Linked DNA regions of Homo sapiens: region 1 is linked to region 2. Evidence: fine-mapped expression QTL. Tissue or cell type: whole blood. Region 2 holds a variant in brackets; the other region holds the start of a gene. All regions are shown on one strand. Distances are between the middles of the regions.

The links. PIP is the estimated chance that this variant, and not a neighbour inherited with it, causes the effect.
Region 1: S1PR3 starts here. The variant in region 2 is fine-mapped to the expression of S1PR3 in whole blood (TOPMed, PIP 0.97).

Annotation. Positions count from the first base shown.
Region 1 is chr9:88,988,231-88,996,338 of GRCh38, reverse strand. It overlaps S1PR3 (sphingosine-1-phosphate receptor 3), which reads right to left and starts at 4,871. Exons shown (of 2, transcript NM_005226.4): 1 at 4,644-4,871. RefSeq lists a silencer at 5,031-5,325.
Region 2 is chr9:88,843,696-88,851,803 of GRCh38, reverse strand. No RefSeq gene overlaps it. Among named protein-coding and RNA genes, the nearest start is that of MIR4289, 100 kb to the right of the region's middle. The variant T/C (reference allele first, on the strand shown) is at 4,952.

The DNA.
Region 1 (8,108 bases), 140 kb before region 2:
GAGGATGTTCTCTTGGCGAACACATGTCCATGTTTTCGCAGGTCGATGTTGATTTGTGAGCGGTGTGTTGGTGTCTGAGATGGGCTTTAACCATGACTCGGAGGCACTGGGTTTCTCAGACCCCAGCCAGCCCATCTTGCAAAACTGGTGTGGGGAGAAGGGGCGGCCCCTAACAGAGGGCAAGACTGATGCAGTATTAGTGTTCACTCTTTGCTTTATTCCAAAAGTAAGTGTCCAGAGCTGGCAGTGACATTGTAAATTTGATCGCGGCTTAAATTCCACCTGAACACTTAGAAATAAAGCCAGATGCTGAGACATATGGCTTTTTGCAGACTAGTTTTGCATATATTCAGAGAGCTTGGCACATTACGGAAGACACAGGAGTACAGACAGCTGCAGGGTAGAGACGCTCCTCCTCATTAGCGGTGGTCTTCTAACCAATACAGATGCTGACACTGGGCTGCTCCCACTGCCCACCTCCACGGCACATCCTTGCCTGGTCGTTCCACTCTCTTCCAAGTGCTACACTAACACATCTCCCTGACCACCTGGGAAGACCCCCGCCCACCACCCAGCTCTTCAAGAGACTTAAGTATTTGATTGTCTGCATCTTCAGTCTTTTCATGTTTACTGAGAGACACTGCTTACATCTGAACTTACCTGAGTTCTACTCAATAAAGACCCCATTAGCTAAGGGTTTTCATGTCATCCTCACTAAGCTGGGTTCATCCAGCCTACCTCAAAGCATTTTAATACCAACACATTTTTTTTTTGTCGAGGAGGAATAAGACGCCTTCTGGAAGATGAGTATGCAGTGGATGACCCCAAGTTAGACCCTGCCAAGGTCAGAGGTGCCTACCTTCCCCCAACTTCCAAGGAGAAACATTGCTGGGAGGAGGGTGAGCCAGAGAGAGGAGGCCGGATGGATTCCAGATGTGCTTTCTATACTAGCGATTCGCTTTCTCTACCCATGTCAAGTTGAAAAATAAACAAACTATAAAAGGAAGAAAAAGAGAAAAAATAAAGAAAATGTTTCCACAGTCTGGTCTCCTTCCCAACACCCCCCTTTCTCTCTCCGCATAAAAGATAGGCACAATAAGATAGTAAGATAGCATCTTGGTCAGATGCAGGATGCTATATTTTTAATAGGCATGTACTCCCAGGGAAATTAACTAGTTCATCCTCCAAACTGAATCAAAACACCAAACATATGCCAACAAGCAAAATTTCTTGGAAAGCAAGATGTTTTTTAAAATTTCATTTAAAATAACTTGGAAAGGAAATAATGAGTCGGCCGTTACAAGGCTCCAGCAAAATTCCTTTGCTAATGAGTATTTTCCCTTGCTCTAGATTTCTTGGGTGACCTCGCTCTGCTTTTGGAGACAGTCCATTGCAAAATGCATGCTTCACACACCCAGCTGCACAGGCTTGGCCCATTAATGCAGCTCCCCTGAGAAATAACAACTGTTACAGACAAACCAGGTGAGGGTTTTGTATCTTTTCTCCCTTCTCTTCTTCAAAGCATGCAAGTCAGTGCACTTCCCTGGTTAGACTTACTGCTTCCCGGTGGCTTTTCCCCAAGTCCTTCTCCATCACAAATAAGGCTGGGACATTATGAGCTATCTGGGCATAGTCCAGGGAACCCCAGATATGGAGGCTGTGCCCCAGGAAACTCAGGCCCCGGCCCCGAGCATCTGCCTCCGTGAACACCATCCTGAGCTTCCAGACTTGTGTGTGGGAAGGCAAGTGCGTCTGAGCCAGGAGGTGTTTGACCGCTTTGCCTGTCCATGAGTCTTTTTAAACCTTCTCCATTCTGCTGCTGCTTCATGACAGCATAGGATAAATGATTCTCAAGATTTCCACAGGGATGAATCCACAGGGATGTGGAAATAGGCTCTGTGAGGTGGCTAAAGGCACATTCAAATAAGAGGCATCCTGCCCACGAAGGCTACCGGAGATCCTTCCTATCCCTTCCCAAAGCGGCAGTCTCACCTGGTGACTCGGCATGCGTGCCACCTTGCACCATGGACATAGCACACATGGCCTCATGGCAGCATCTGCCTTCTGAATGTACACAGGAGGAGACCGAGGCTGGGGGAGGGGGGGTGTCACTTGTCCTTAGTCACAGAGCTGGGAAGGGGCTGGGCCGGTGTCCGTGCCATCTGATTCCAGGATGTCACATTAGGGATGAGCTCTTTGGGAGGCTGCCACCTTGCCACTGGTTCTTTGCCTAGGTAGTGACAAGAGATTCTCTGGCATGTTTTAGAGACAAACTGCCTCATGCTCCCATGCCAGCAGAATGTTAGCATGTCATTCTGGGGGCACTGAAATATCTGGAAAATTTTGAAGCCAGGAAAATGGAGCGGCATCTGCAAGGCCGAAGAGCACCATCCACTGCTTGAGGAGCGGACCGTCACCTCGCTGTGTGAGCTGACCCCAGTCCGGCCTGTGAGCAGTGAAGATCCACTCACTGGGCACCAATCTGCACTGGACAATCTCGTCACTGATTTAACCCAACTGGCCTATTGTCTCTTACAGACACAGCTTCAATGCCTCAAAAATAGGATTCAAAAAAGGGAAGGAGACTTTATGCCCAGTAGCTATAACAGTAACATCAACTGAAACATGTTATTAACTGAAACTAGATACGATTCCACTCAGTCTATTCTTTTTCTTTTTTCTCAAACATTATACATTTCCAAAAGCTTAAGGAAAATCTTAAGGCAATTAATTTGGCAGAAAACATATGGCAGAGGAATAATAGGAAATGCCTCCAAAACTGATAAGAAAGGAATTACAAAGCCAAATATGAAGAAACAGAAAGTTTCATAGAACCCACAGCACAGCACCCTGGTTCCAGCTAAGGTAAACAGACTGCATAAGGCTGGCGGCCTGGCTCTGGTAACACTTGGGAAACAGTACAAAGTCCTGGCAGTTAAAGGGTTCTACAGCAGGGCAACCTCAGATTTTTCAAGATTGTGGCATGCTCAAATTCTCCTTTTTTTGGTAATAAAAATATACCTACAGTATATAATAAAAATATACATACAGCACAGGCATTGAGGAAGATGAAAGAGATACCATGAAATCAAGTTAATGTCATAATTTCCAGAAAGAGGAAACCAGTTCCTGAATTTTGAGAAATAAGATCCTTCGGCCACTATGTGAAGTTTCTTCTATAGGAAACTGTAGTCTCTACCCTTTGTATATGGTAGAAAATCAGAGACTCATGCATTTGAATAAAAATCACAATGATAAAGGGAGAAATGGCACTTTCAAAGATGAAAACTGGTTGAGAAATCATTCTCTCTAAATCTTAGGGGGAGGCTCTTAAGGGCTAGCTTCAGTTTGTATCTCTGGTGTTAGGTGATGGAAGTGATTTCAGAGGCCCAAAGTGAGTGCTTACTGGTTTGCTAATGAAAAAAGCCTGACGTGCGGTTCTTCTTCTATGGCAACAAAGTTATTCAACCTAGCATTAAGGTCTGCATCCATGAAATAATACTTTACAGATATGAACACTTCCACAACTCCTCAAGCGCACACACACACACACACACACATGCCCCGCACCATCACCACCTCCTCAACCAACACCAGCCCTGGGCATGGCCAGCTATCCTTGTTAGTCATGTATCTGCAGAGCATAATCCTTCCCTTGTACTTTCTAGGAATTATATTTTTCTTAACTATGCCTGCAAGATTTTCATCTATGAATAAAAAACATTGAAAAGATAAATTATGAATATGTGGTTATATACAAAGTCTGTGACTTCTAATGTCCAGATTTTAGAATGATGCCTAATTCTGGAGGTCTCAGAGGTCCAAGTGGGAGTGGGTACCATGAATGGGGGGGCCTCCATTTAAAAGTAACCTTCTAAAGAGCTCTCTGTTCCTGTAGCTCCCCTTTCCTTATTGGAAGGGTCAAAACGAAGTGTGTTCCCTTAAAAATCCAACAAGAAGTTCCTCTCTTATATCCAAATATAAAAACACCACAAAGAAATATACCATTGGGAGTGTCCAAAGCCAGAAAGTCAGAGGAAGAGAGAGAGAGAGAGAGAGAGAGAGACTGACTATTGGGAGACTCAAAAAGCCCAAAGCCCCTTCTCTAGCTGTTATCTCAGTTACGAACACAACGTACTGATTTTCCGTGGGAACCTCATTATTGCACTGTGGGGACTTCGTCTTCCAGCACCGATTCTGACGGCCCTAATTGCCTTGTTTGAGAAATGTTAGGAAAAAACTAATTTTCCGGCGAATATTGTTTAAAAGAATGATTTTCCCAGGCTAACGACCACAACCCTCTCCCACGTCCAGCATCCCCAGGCCCTGGCACTGTGGAAGCCTAACTTGTTAATTGTCCAAGGAAAACGACTGATGGAACTTCTCCACGAACAGCCTCTCCACTTTCATCCAGGTATTCAGCTCCAGCCCGTTGTAAACGCTCCGGGTGCGGTGGAAAAGGCCTCCTCCCTGTTCCTGCAGCGGCTCTGGGGGAGGGGTGCTGATGTGGAGCGCTCCGGCCGCCGTGGCGCGCCCAAGTCCCCGTCGCGCCCGGGATCGGTGGGGATTTTGTTGGAAAGGTGGGTCCTTCGGCCCCCAGCCCCCCACCCTGGTTCCGCGCCCCGCCCGGGCCCGCCTCTCACCTCCGTCGGCTGAGGGCGCTGGGGCCACCGGCATCCTAGCGGGTGGCGCGCGGCGGTGCCGGGGCGCCCGGTCCTGCGCTCGAATGCCAGATGGGCTGGGAGGCCCGGCAGTCTCAGCGCTCGCGACGTCGTTCCCGGGCCTGGGGTCCTGCTCGGTCGCGTCCTGCAGCCGCCTTCTGGTCCCTGAGTCCCTGTTGCCCGTCCCCGGAACCGGCTTCCTCGGCCTCTGCCCGAGCGAGTCAGAGACTAAACTTTTCCAGCGGCCCGCCGGGGCGGGACCCGCGCTCCGCCCCTCCCCTCGCCGCCCCCGACTCCCGCCCCTCTCCCCGCCCCCCTCTCCCCGTCCCCCGCCCGCGAACCCGGCACTCCTCCAGCTCCCCACCTCCCGCTCAAGCCGCCTGGTCTCCGTGCGCCCCGCCCGCCCCTAGCCTGGACCCCTTCTCCCCGACCCTACCAATCCCCTAGGGTCCGGCTCGCCCTTCGGCCCCTGTTCCCAGGCCGGCCTCCAGACCTTGTCCTCATCGGGCGAGCTCCAGGTGCAGAAACCGGGCGCCCAGAGACCCAGCGGGAACAGGCTTGGAACCAGGTCCGAGGTCTGGGCTTGGGCGGGCGCCTGTCGCCCTGACAGCGAGGGTTTGTTTGGGCCGATTCTTAATAGGAGGATTAATACTATCATTATCGTTGTCCAGATCCTGACCATTTCTTTTGTAACTGGCCGAGCACCGGCTTGGGCTTGCAGGTGGGCGCCTGGCGCCGGACAGCGTTTTTGTTTGGGCTTCTTCCTTTTCCGCGCGGGTCCCCTCCGGCGCCTGCCTGGTCCCTCTCCGCGCTCTACCCCCAGGCACGCAGAGACTTGGGCTCCAGGCGGGGGCAGCACTCTCCCCCAGCCTCTGCTGGTGCACCAGAGCCCACTCCGGCACAGAGCAGCGCCCCTCCTAGACCGGCAGCCAGCAGATCTCAGCCGACCCCCATGCGACCCCCTTCCTCACGCGGATTTGCCCCTTTTGTGTGGCAAAAATAATAATAATAATAATAAATCCATATGAAGGCTTCAAACAGAATTCCGAGAGAAGGAACTGCCAAATTTTCAATCAATGCCAAAGGCCATGATTGAGCGAACACAGAAACAACTGTAGAAGCTTGGGGAGAAAGGAGAAAATTAAAGAAAAAGGAGGAGGAGGAAAAGGAGAGAGGAGAGAAGCGGGAGGAAGAAGACGAAAAAGCAAGGAGAGGCCTGTTATCCGACCGTGCATTCCTGGGCCGGCAGGATTGGGCCGCAGGGGCCGCTGCAGAGAGTTGAGTTTGTGCAAAGGCCGCTCGTTACTTTCTGTCTTTTGCCCTCTTGCCTCCAGAGGATCAGCCCAGCGCATCCTTCTCTTGGAGCAGGGTGCATACGCTTATTTGGGGTGCAGTTTGAGCGGTGAAGGGCACCAAGAGTGGAAGTCGGCGGCACTCCTGTTCCCTGCAGAGAAACGCAAGCCCTCAGCAATTGAGCTGAAGGAGGCAAGTGACTCTGCCTGCTGAGGCTGCCAGCCCTAGAGGCTCTGGCCCCCGGGAGCTGGGGTACTTCCCAGCGTTTTCGCCTAAGCCACTTCGCCTGTGCTACTGTGGAGTCTTCCGGCACTGTAGCCTTCCAACTTGTTCAAAGTGCCTGGTGCACGGCTCTGAGAAGCCACTTCTGTCCCAAGTTTCATGTGGGCCTGAATGTGCTTCCCTTTGTTGGACTCCTACAGCATCAAGTCAAGAAAAGAAGGAAACATGCTCCTTTGGCATTGGTCACAACCAGGATAACAATACAGCATACTGTGGCCACTGTGTCTATATTACCAAAGTGGTCAGTAGGTTCATCACACCTCTGTTCAATTAGTTGCTTCCCGTGATGAAAAATTTACTGCTAGGATACTGGCTGAGGGTTGTTTTAAGGGGCACCCAAGTCTCCGTTCCTAGAGAAAGTCAGTTACCCTGATATAACAGAGCAACCTTGAGGCGTGGTGATGCCTCCAAAACTAGTCTGCGGAATCGGAGCCCAGAAGCCCTGAGGAGTAATGTGGCTCTCATGCTTTATGGCAGGTTTCCCTAAGAGAGACCCAGGATCTGACCCATGGCATCACTGAAATTCCTCTTTCAGTGAGGCTCCGTTTGCCTAAAGATCCCTGTCCTCAGTGGGTCTCCCCACACACGGGCCTCTCACTCACCCACTGCCCCACCCCCATCTGCTGCCCTCTTCCTGGGCCTTAAAGCTCAGACACTAGACTCTGACAAGGAGCCCTCCATGCCCCGGTAGAGACCATCTTCTCTCACCACTCCTTTTGAGAGAAACAGCCCTCCCTACAATTCTGTTGAATAAGTCTCCTCCTCTGCATCCTGTTTCACAAGTGAAAGCAGTTTAACAGAAGAATGCCAGCTCATAAACGTAGAAATGCGAGAATGAGGAAATCCCCATTCTGTAACCCTTAATGAAATAATTAAATCAGGCAGTGTGCACTAGTGGGTGTCAAACCCTTAGGTGAAAGTGTGCAGGCGAACGGGTGCTAATTGGAAAAAAAAAAGAAAAAGGTTTTCCATTTTCCATTTTTTTATGGAGACATCTGGCTGTACCTTACAGGAAGATCAAACTCAGTGTCACTAATACTGGCTCAACCTGGCATTATGTGATGCAAAAGAAACACACAACATCATTGTTGCTGTGTGCTTGCCAAAGATGCTTCAATTGAATCAATTGCAAAGCCTCTAGACTTTACTGCAAGTTTACAGGAAATGGAAGAGTTTGAGCCATGAGTTAAATGACACCATGGGAAAAACTGGACTACCAGAGTGTGGGCATTCTGCAGTCCTGAGCTCTTCCAAAAAAAATCAATGTCAAGAAAAAGGGGTGAAGGATTCTTCTGGTATAAGAACAGCTGAAAAGAAGAAGTATAACAATAAGTACAAATCCGGATTGACTCCCAGCTGGACAAATCAGCACACACACACGCACACAAAAACATTTTGGAGGAAATTACAAATTGGAGGGGATATTGACTGATAGTATAGAATTATTGTTAATGTTTTTAGGTGTGATAATGGCATAATGTTTGTTTAGGAGAATGGCTTTAATTTTAGGAGGTGCTGCTGAAGTATTAAAGGGTAAAATGTCTTCATGTCTAAAACTTATTTTAAATTGTTCAGCACAGTACGTGCACATAAGCTGATATGACAAAAGGTTGGTGATTATTGGTTCTACGTGGTGGATTTAGGGAAGGGGTTGTACAATCTGTTCTCCTTCTTTGTATCTTTGAACTTTTTCCATAATAAAAAGTTGGAGAAAAATAAAATGGCAGGTACTAAACAACTAAAAAATTTCTCTACCTTTGCGCTTAGACTTTAAATCAAATCTAGGCTTATGGGAATAAAATTGAAAGATACTATGAGTTATATCTGTATACTTTTGAAAATCATGTGGCCCCAAACTTAAATATGATTTGA
Region 2 (8,108 bases):
GTATGTATTCTTAGTGCATATAGTACCTATTCATCCTTAAAAAAACATGATGACAAATCCAATCAATTGCACCTTTAATGGAGAATTCCAAAACTAGAATTCATATTGTTGAATATTTGATCTATCAAGACTAAATATCTAATCTTTCATGATGTAAGAATAGTTGATACTAAAAGTTATGAATTAATAAAGATGACATATATCTCCAAATTTACAAAGATAACACTAGAAGAGTGTCTTAGTAAATTTGGTTGCCATAAAAAAAATGTCAAGCATTGGATAGCTTAAACAAAAGCAATTTATTTCTGACAGCTCTGGAGGCTGGAAGTCCAAGATTAAGGTGCTACTGATTTGGTTCCCTGGTGAGGGCTCTCTTCCTGGCTTGCAGACAGCCACCTTCTTGCTGTGTTCTCTTATGGTGGTGGTGTGGAGAGAGATCTCTGGTCTCTTTTCCTCTTTTTATAAGGATGCTAATTCCATCGTGAGGGTCCCACTTTCATGAACTCATCTAAAAATAATTACCACACGAAGGCTCGCCTCCCAAATATCATCATCTTGGGTGTTAGGGCTACAGCATATGAATTTTAGAGGGGCACAAACATTCAGTCTGTAACAAACAGACAATAATACTTTCAAATTACCAGGAGAAAAGTAAGTGCACCACTTTCTATACATACCACTTCACTAAACCACACACATACACATACACACCACTTCACTAAACACACACACATACACATATACACACACACAGAGAGAGAGAAAAGGAAGCACATGTATCAAGCATATCTGTTAGAAATACAAATATAAATAGAAATATAAAATCTGTTAAAAAATAATTTCTTTGTTTGATCCAAAAGCTAATTACATGCCAAAAGTAAAAGATATGTTAAAAAATTACAAAGTTATAAATTAAAGGTTAGACAAAGATAAAGCAAACAAATGCCAACAAACTTAAGTGGGGATTGTTGTATTAATAAGCAGGCAAATTTTAATTTTAGGCAAAAGACATGAAAAATCCTAAATGAACTCATTGTTTAATGATGCAGAAAGTATTTCACAATAAATGTAAAAATGTCAGGAACCTTTATGCTCAGATAATATATCAACAAAAATACACAGAAAAAGCTACTGAAAATACAAAAATAAATACACACCAAAAAGTATAATAGTAAATATTAACTCATCTTTTTCAATCCATCACTAATTAAGACTACTTAGCAAAATAAGAAATATAGAGAATTTAAGCAGTACTACTAATATTTTTATTATATGTGATATAAGGTTGTGTACTATATGTACTCAAATTTCTGTATCTTACAAACAGACATACACACCTACTTTTAAGCATCTTCAACATTTATAAAAATTGACCACAAAGAGACAACAAAAATTTTTTAATCACAGAAAAGAAACTTGTGCAGACCATATTCAATATCTAACATGAAAATAAACAAGAAATTGGCCGGGCACGGTGGCTCATGCCTGTAATCCTAGCACTTTGGGAGGCCGAGGCGGGCAGATCACAAGGTCAGGAGATCGAGACCATCCTGGCTAACACAGTGAAACCCCGTCTCTACTAAAAACGTACAAAAAATAAGCCTGGTGTGGTGGCAGGCATCTGTAGTCCCAGCAGTGAGCCGAGATTGGGTCACTGCACTCCAGCCTGGGCGACAGAGCGAGCCTTCATCAAAAATAAAATAAAATAAAATAAAATAAAATAAAATAAAATAAAATAAAATAAAATAAAATAAAATAAACAAGAAATTAATAATTTTTAAAAGAGGGTACCAAGATAATTCATTTAGGGAAAGAATCATCCCTTCAACAAATGGTGCTGGAACAACCAGATATTCACATGCAAAAGAATGAAGTTGAATCACTAAACAAAACTGAACTCAGAATGAACCATCAATCTAAAGGTAAGAGCTAAATCTACAAAACTCTCAGAAGAAAATATAGGGACAAACCTTCATGACTTTGGATTTGACAGTGGGTTCTTAGATATGATACTGAAAGCACATGGAACAAAAGAAAAAGTAGACAAACTGGACATATAAAGACAAAAATTTTTAACATCCAAGAATATTATCAAGAAAATGAAAAGACAATCTACAGAATAGGAGAAATATTTTCAAATCACATCTCTGATAAGGGATTAATATCTAGAGTATATAAAGAATTGAAATTCAACTGAAAAGACCATTTTAAAATGGGCAAAGGACTTAGTATTTCTCCAAAGAATATCTAAAAATGGACATTAAGCACATGAAAAGGTGACCAACAACATTTGTCATTAGGAAAATCCAAATCAAAACCAAAATTAAATACCACTTCAAACCCACTAGGATGTCTACAATCAATAAAATGAAAAATAAGTGTTGGCAAGGATATCTACAAGTTGGAACTCTCAAGTATTACTGGGGGAAATGTAAAATGATTCAGTCACTGTGAATAAATATTTCATGGTAAGTCAAACATAGGCTTACCAGATGACCCAGGAATTCCACTTAGGGACATACCTAAGAGAATTGAAAACAGGTATGCAGATTACTCTCTATATGAACATTCAGAGCAGCACTATTCACAATAGTCAAAAGATAGAAACAACCCAAACATCCATCAGTGGATGAATGGATTAATAATGGATATGAACAGAATTCATCTTGTGGCATATCACATAATGTAAACATCGCTACACTTTTTCTGAACAGGTATGTTTAGTGATAAACAGAATTTTAATGAGCCTTCCATCTTTTCATTGACCTATCCATCCATCCATCCATCCATCCACCCATCCATAATTCAGTCTTTTTTCTTCTTCTTTCTGTAAGTCTCTTTTTTTTCTTTGTTTTAACTTATATTTTAAGTTCAGGGGTACAAATGCAGGTTTGTTACATAGACTTGTGCCATGAAGTTTTGTTGTACAGATTATTTCATTGCCCAGATATTATACAAGATTATGCCAGGTGAAAGAAGCCAGACACAAAAGTTCACACGTTGGTCATATGACTCAATTACATGAAATGTTCAGAATAGGTAAATTCAGAGGTACAGAAAGCAGAATGGTGATTGTCAAGGGCTGGAGAGAGTGAGTAATGGGGAGTAGGTGCCTCATGGATATAGGATTTTATTTGGCGTAATGAAAATATTTTGGAACTAGATAGAGTTAGTGTTTGCAAAACATTGTGAATGTACTAAATGCCACAAAATTGTCTACCTTAAAATGCTTAATTTTGTCTGTAAATTTTACCTCAATAAAAAAATAAATAAAAAATGCTGGGCACAGTGGCTCATGCCTGTAATTCCAGCACTTTGGGAGGCTGAGGCAGGTGGATCACTTGAGGTCAGGAGTTTGAGAGCAGCCTGGTCAACATGGTGAAACCCTGTCTGTACTAAAAATACAAAAATTAGCAGGGCATGGTAGTGCATGCCTGTAGTCCCAGCTACTTGGGAAGCTGAGGCAGGAGGAACCTGGGAGGCAGAGGCTGCAGTAAACCGAGATTGTGCCACTGCACTCCAGCCTGGGCCACAGAAGTAGATTCTGTCTCAATAAATACATAAATATAAAAACCAATAATGCCAAACATTTCAGGAAAACCTAATAAGCCAAATATTTAAAGATAACTTTCTTGGCTAAAAAAGAATGGTATAATTTTAAAAAATCAGATTATCAAGAAAACAATAATAACAAAAAACCTACATATTAAAAATCAATGAAATGCAGTCAGAGTTCATTTGATGGTGCTTTCCTTTATTGCACCTCTCAGATATTACGTTATTTTTTTTACAAACTTCTTTTTACAAGGTTTGTGGTAACTCTACTCTGAACAGCCTATTGACGCCATATTTCCCAAAGCATATACTGCTCAATTTGTGTCTCTGTGTCACATTTTGGTAATTCTCGCAACATTTCAAACTTTCTTATTATTACTATATCTGTGATAGTGATCTATGATCGGTGATCTTTGATGGAACTACTGTAATTTTTGTTGGGCATCACAAACCATACACATACAAGACAGTGAACTTAACTGGTAAATGTGTGTGTTCTGAGTGCTCCCTCCATTGAACATTTTCCCCTCTCTTTCCCTCTCCTTGGGTCTCTTTATTCCCTGAGACATGACAATATTGAAATTAGGCCGATTAATAACCCTAATGGCTTCTAAGTGTTCAAGTTAAAAAAAAAGGGTCACAGGTCTCTCACTTTAAATCAAAAGCTGGAAATGATTAAGCTGAATGAGGAAGGTATGTCAAAAGCCAAGATAGGCAGAAAGGTAAGCTTATTGAACCAAATCACTAGTCAAGTTGTGAATGCAAAGGAAAAGTTCTTGGAAGAAATTAAAAGTGCTACTCCAGTGAACACATGAATGATAAGAAAGTAAAATAGCCTTATTGCTGATGAAAGTTGTAATGATCTGGAAAAAAGATCAAAATGACCACAACATTCCCTTAAGCTAAAATTTAATCCAGAGAAAGACCCTCACTCTCTTCAATTCTGTGAAGGCTGAGAGAGGCAAGAAAGCTGCAGGAAAATTTGAAGCTGGCAGATACTGGTTCACGGTATTTAGGGGGGGAAAAAAGCTGTCTTTGTAAGATACAAATGTAAGGTGAAGCAGCAAGTACTGATGTAGAAGCTGCAGCAAGTTATCCAGAAAATCTAGCTAAGATTATTGATAAAGGTGGCCACAGATTTCCAGTGTAGATGAAACTACCTTAAATTGGAAGAACATGCCATCTGGGACTTTCATAGCTAGAGAAAAGTCAATGCCTGGCTTCAAATCTTCAAAGGACAGTCAAAAAAAAAAAAAGTGATGGATGGATCACTCTATCACTTTCTTTTGCATGGATGAAAAAAGAAAGTGATTCCTTTTCTTTACTTAAAGCCCCAAAATAATCTCCTTTGACTCCATTTCCCACATCCAGGGCACTCTGGCACATGAGGTGGGCC[T/C]TCAAGGCCTTGGGCAGCTCTGCCCCTTGTGACTTTGCAGTGTACATGACCATGGCTGCTGTCATGGGTTGGAGTTGAGTACATGTAGCTTTTCGAGGCTCAGGATGCAAGCTTCTGTTAGATCTACCATTCTTGGGTTTGGAGGGTGGCAGTCCCTTTCCCCAAGCTCCACTAAGCAGTACTCTGGTAGAGTCTCTGTGGGGGCTCTCACCCTGCATTTTCCCTCTGTGCTGCCCTAGTAGAGGTTTTTTGTGAGGGCTCCACCCCTGTGGCAGGCTTCTGCCTGGTCACCCAGGTTTTCTCATACATCCTCTGAAATCTAAGGGGAAGCTGCCAGGCCCCCTTCACTCTTGCTTTCCATGCTACCATAGACTTAACACCATGTGGGAGCCACTAAGGCTTATGGCAGCTTGCAGTCTCCAAAGCAGCAGCTTGAGTACTATCTGGAGCCCTTTGAACTAAGGCTGAAGCTGGGACAGCCAGGATGTGAGAAGCAGTGTCCTGAGACTGCACAGGGCAGCAGGGCCCTGGGCCTGGCCCCTGAATCCATTCTTTACTCCTAGGCCTCTGGGCCTGTGATAGGAGGAGCTGCCTTGAAGATAACTGAAATGCCTTCGAGGCCTTTTTCCCATTGCCTTGGGTATTAACACTTGGCTCCCTTTTAGTCATGCTAATCTCTCTAGTAAGTGGTTGCTCTGCAGCCTGCTTGGATTCTTTGTCTACCACAGGGCTAGGCTGTGAATTTTCCAAACTTTTATGCTTTGCTTCCCTTTTAAATATGTTTCAACTTTAAATCATTCCTTTACTCCCATATCTGAGTTTAAGCTGTTAGAAGCAGCCATGTCATATTCTTTTTTTTTTTTTTTTTAGACAGAGTTTCACTCTGTCACCCAGGCTGGAGTGCAATGGCATTACCTTAGCTCACTTTAACCTCTGCCTCCCTGGTTCAAGCGATTTTCCTGCCTCAGCCTCCTGAGTAGCTGGGATTACAGGTGCCAGCCACCACCACACCTGGCTAATTTTTGCATTTTTAGTAGGGATGGGGTTTCACCATGTTGGCCAGGTTAGTCTCAGACTCCTGACCTCAGGTGATCTGCCTGCCTCAGCCTCCCAAAGTTCTGGGATTACAAGCATGAGCCACAGCACCCAGCCTTACCAAATATTTAAGAAAAGAATAATGGGAATTGTATACAAGTTCTTCAAGAATATTGAAGAAGATATACTTCTTAAATCATTCTATAAGGCCAATTCTCAATACTAAACTCTAACAAAGATATTATAAGAACATTATAGAACAATATCCCCTGTGATTATAGACACAAAAATGTAAAACAAAATTTTTAGAAAATCAATGCAGAAATACAATTGATATTCATAATTCAGAGATTCCATATTTTCCAATTTGCCTGCTTGCTAAAATGTATTTGTAACACTCAGATCAATAGCTGCAGCATTCTCATGGTCACACGCAGATGGGCACAGAGAGATGAGAGGGATGGGTCTCCTGTGGTGCACATTCGCAGCTTGAGTTTAACAAGCCTACACTCTGCTTTCTTGCTCCAGCTCTCACACTGTAAACAAATGTCCTTTTTGCAGTATTTCATGCCATGTTTTAAACATTTTTGAGCTCTTCTGGGGGCAATTCACTATTTAAAATGGCCCCAAGCTTTCATGCTGAAGGGCTGTCTAGTGTTCTTAAGTTCAGGAAGGCCATGATGTGCTTTACAAAAAATATATGTGTGATAGGATTTCTTCAAGCTGAGCTATAGTGCTGTTGGCTGTTCAATGTTAATGTATTGGTAATAGATATATATACACAAACATATATTAAACAAGATATCTTTAAACAGAAACATACATAAGACGAGGTTTTATGTTGATATGTTAATAAAAATATTTTGGTTATTGTGGTCACCTCTGTGGAACCAGATGTTCTCAGGAAACTAGCCTTGTCTTTCCCCTAAGAGCAATGGTTCAGTGTTCACTAATTCAATGTTTGTGGCAAGTTTATAAAGCATAACTACTCAAATTTATCTAGGTTCAATGCAATCCCAATCAAAATCCCAGAAAGATTTTGTAAATAATGACAAGGTGATTTAAAATTCACATAAAAATATAAAGAACTTAGAATAGTCAAACAGCATTTAAAGTAAAAAAAGAACAAAGTTGAAGACTTATGCTACTTGACTTTAAGGATTATAGCACTACAAAAATCAACATAAACAAATAGATCAATGAGCCAGAAAAAGAGACCAAGAAACAGATCCTCACACACACATATTAACAACTGATTTTCAACAAAGGTGAAAGACAATTTAGTAAAGAAAAGATTGTCTTTTCAACAAATTGGATATCTATATACAAAAATAAAAATAATTTCAGTCTATACTTTGCACCATATAAAATAATCAATTATAAATAGATTACAAATATAAATGTAAGAGCTACAACTACAAACTCCTACAAGAAAACAGGAGGTTTTTTGGTGACCTTGTGTTAGGCAAAGATTTCTTAGATATTGTACAAAAAGCACAACCCTTAAAAAAACTATAAATGTAGCTTCATCAAAGAATCTTTTGTTTTCTGAAATATATTGTTAAGAGAATTAAAAAAATCAAACCCCAAACTGGAAAAAATATTCATAAAGCATATATCTGATGAAAAATCTTATCCAGAATATATTTAGAAACTCTTAAAACTCAACAATAAGAAAACAAACCATAAAAAAATTGACAGAAGATTAAGATGTTTCACCAAAGAATATTATATATATATATATATATATAATCAATAAGCACATGAAAAGTTGTTATTAGGAAAATGCAAATTAAAACTGCAATGAGGTATCATCACACATCTATTAGAATGATTGAATTAGACAGATTTATTTTGTCAAGTATTGGCCAGAACCTGAAGCAACTGTAACTCTCATACACTGCTGGTGGGAATGTAAAATGGCAAGACCACTCTGGAAACAGGTTTGGCAACTTCTTCAAAAGTGTAATAATAATAAAATAAAATAAAATAAAAAAAGTTAGTCATACACTTCTGATCCAAACATTTCACTTCTAGGTTCTTACCCAAAATAAATGAAAGCATATATCCATACAAAGATGTATTCACTATGTTCACAGCAACTTTATTTGTAATAGCCCCA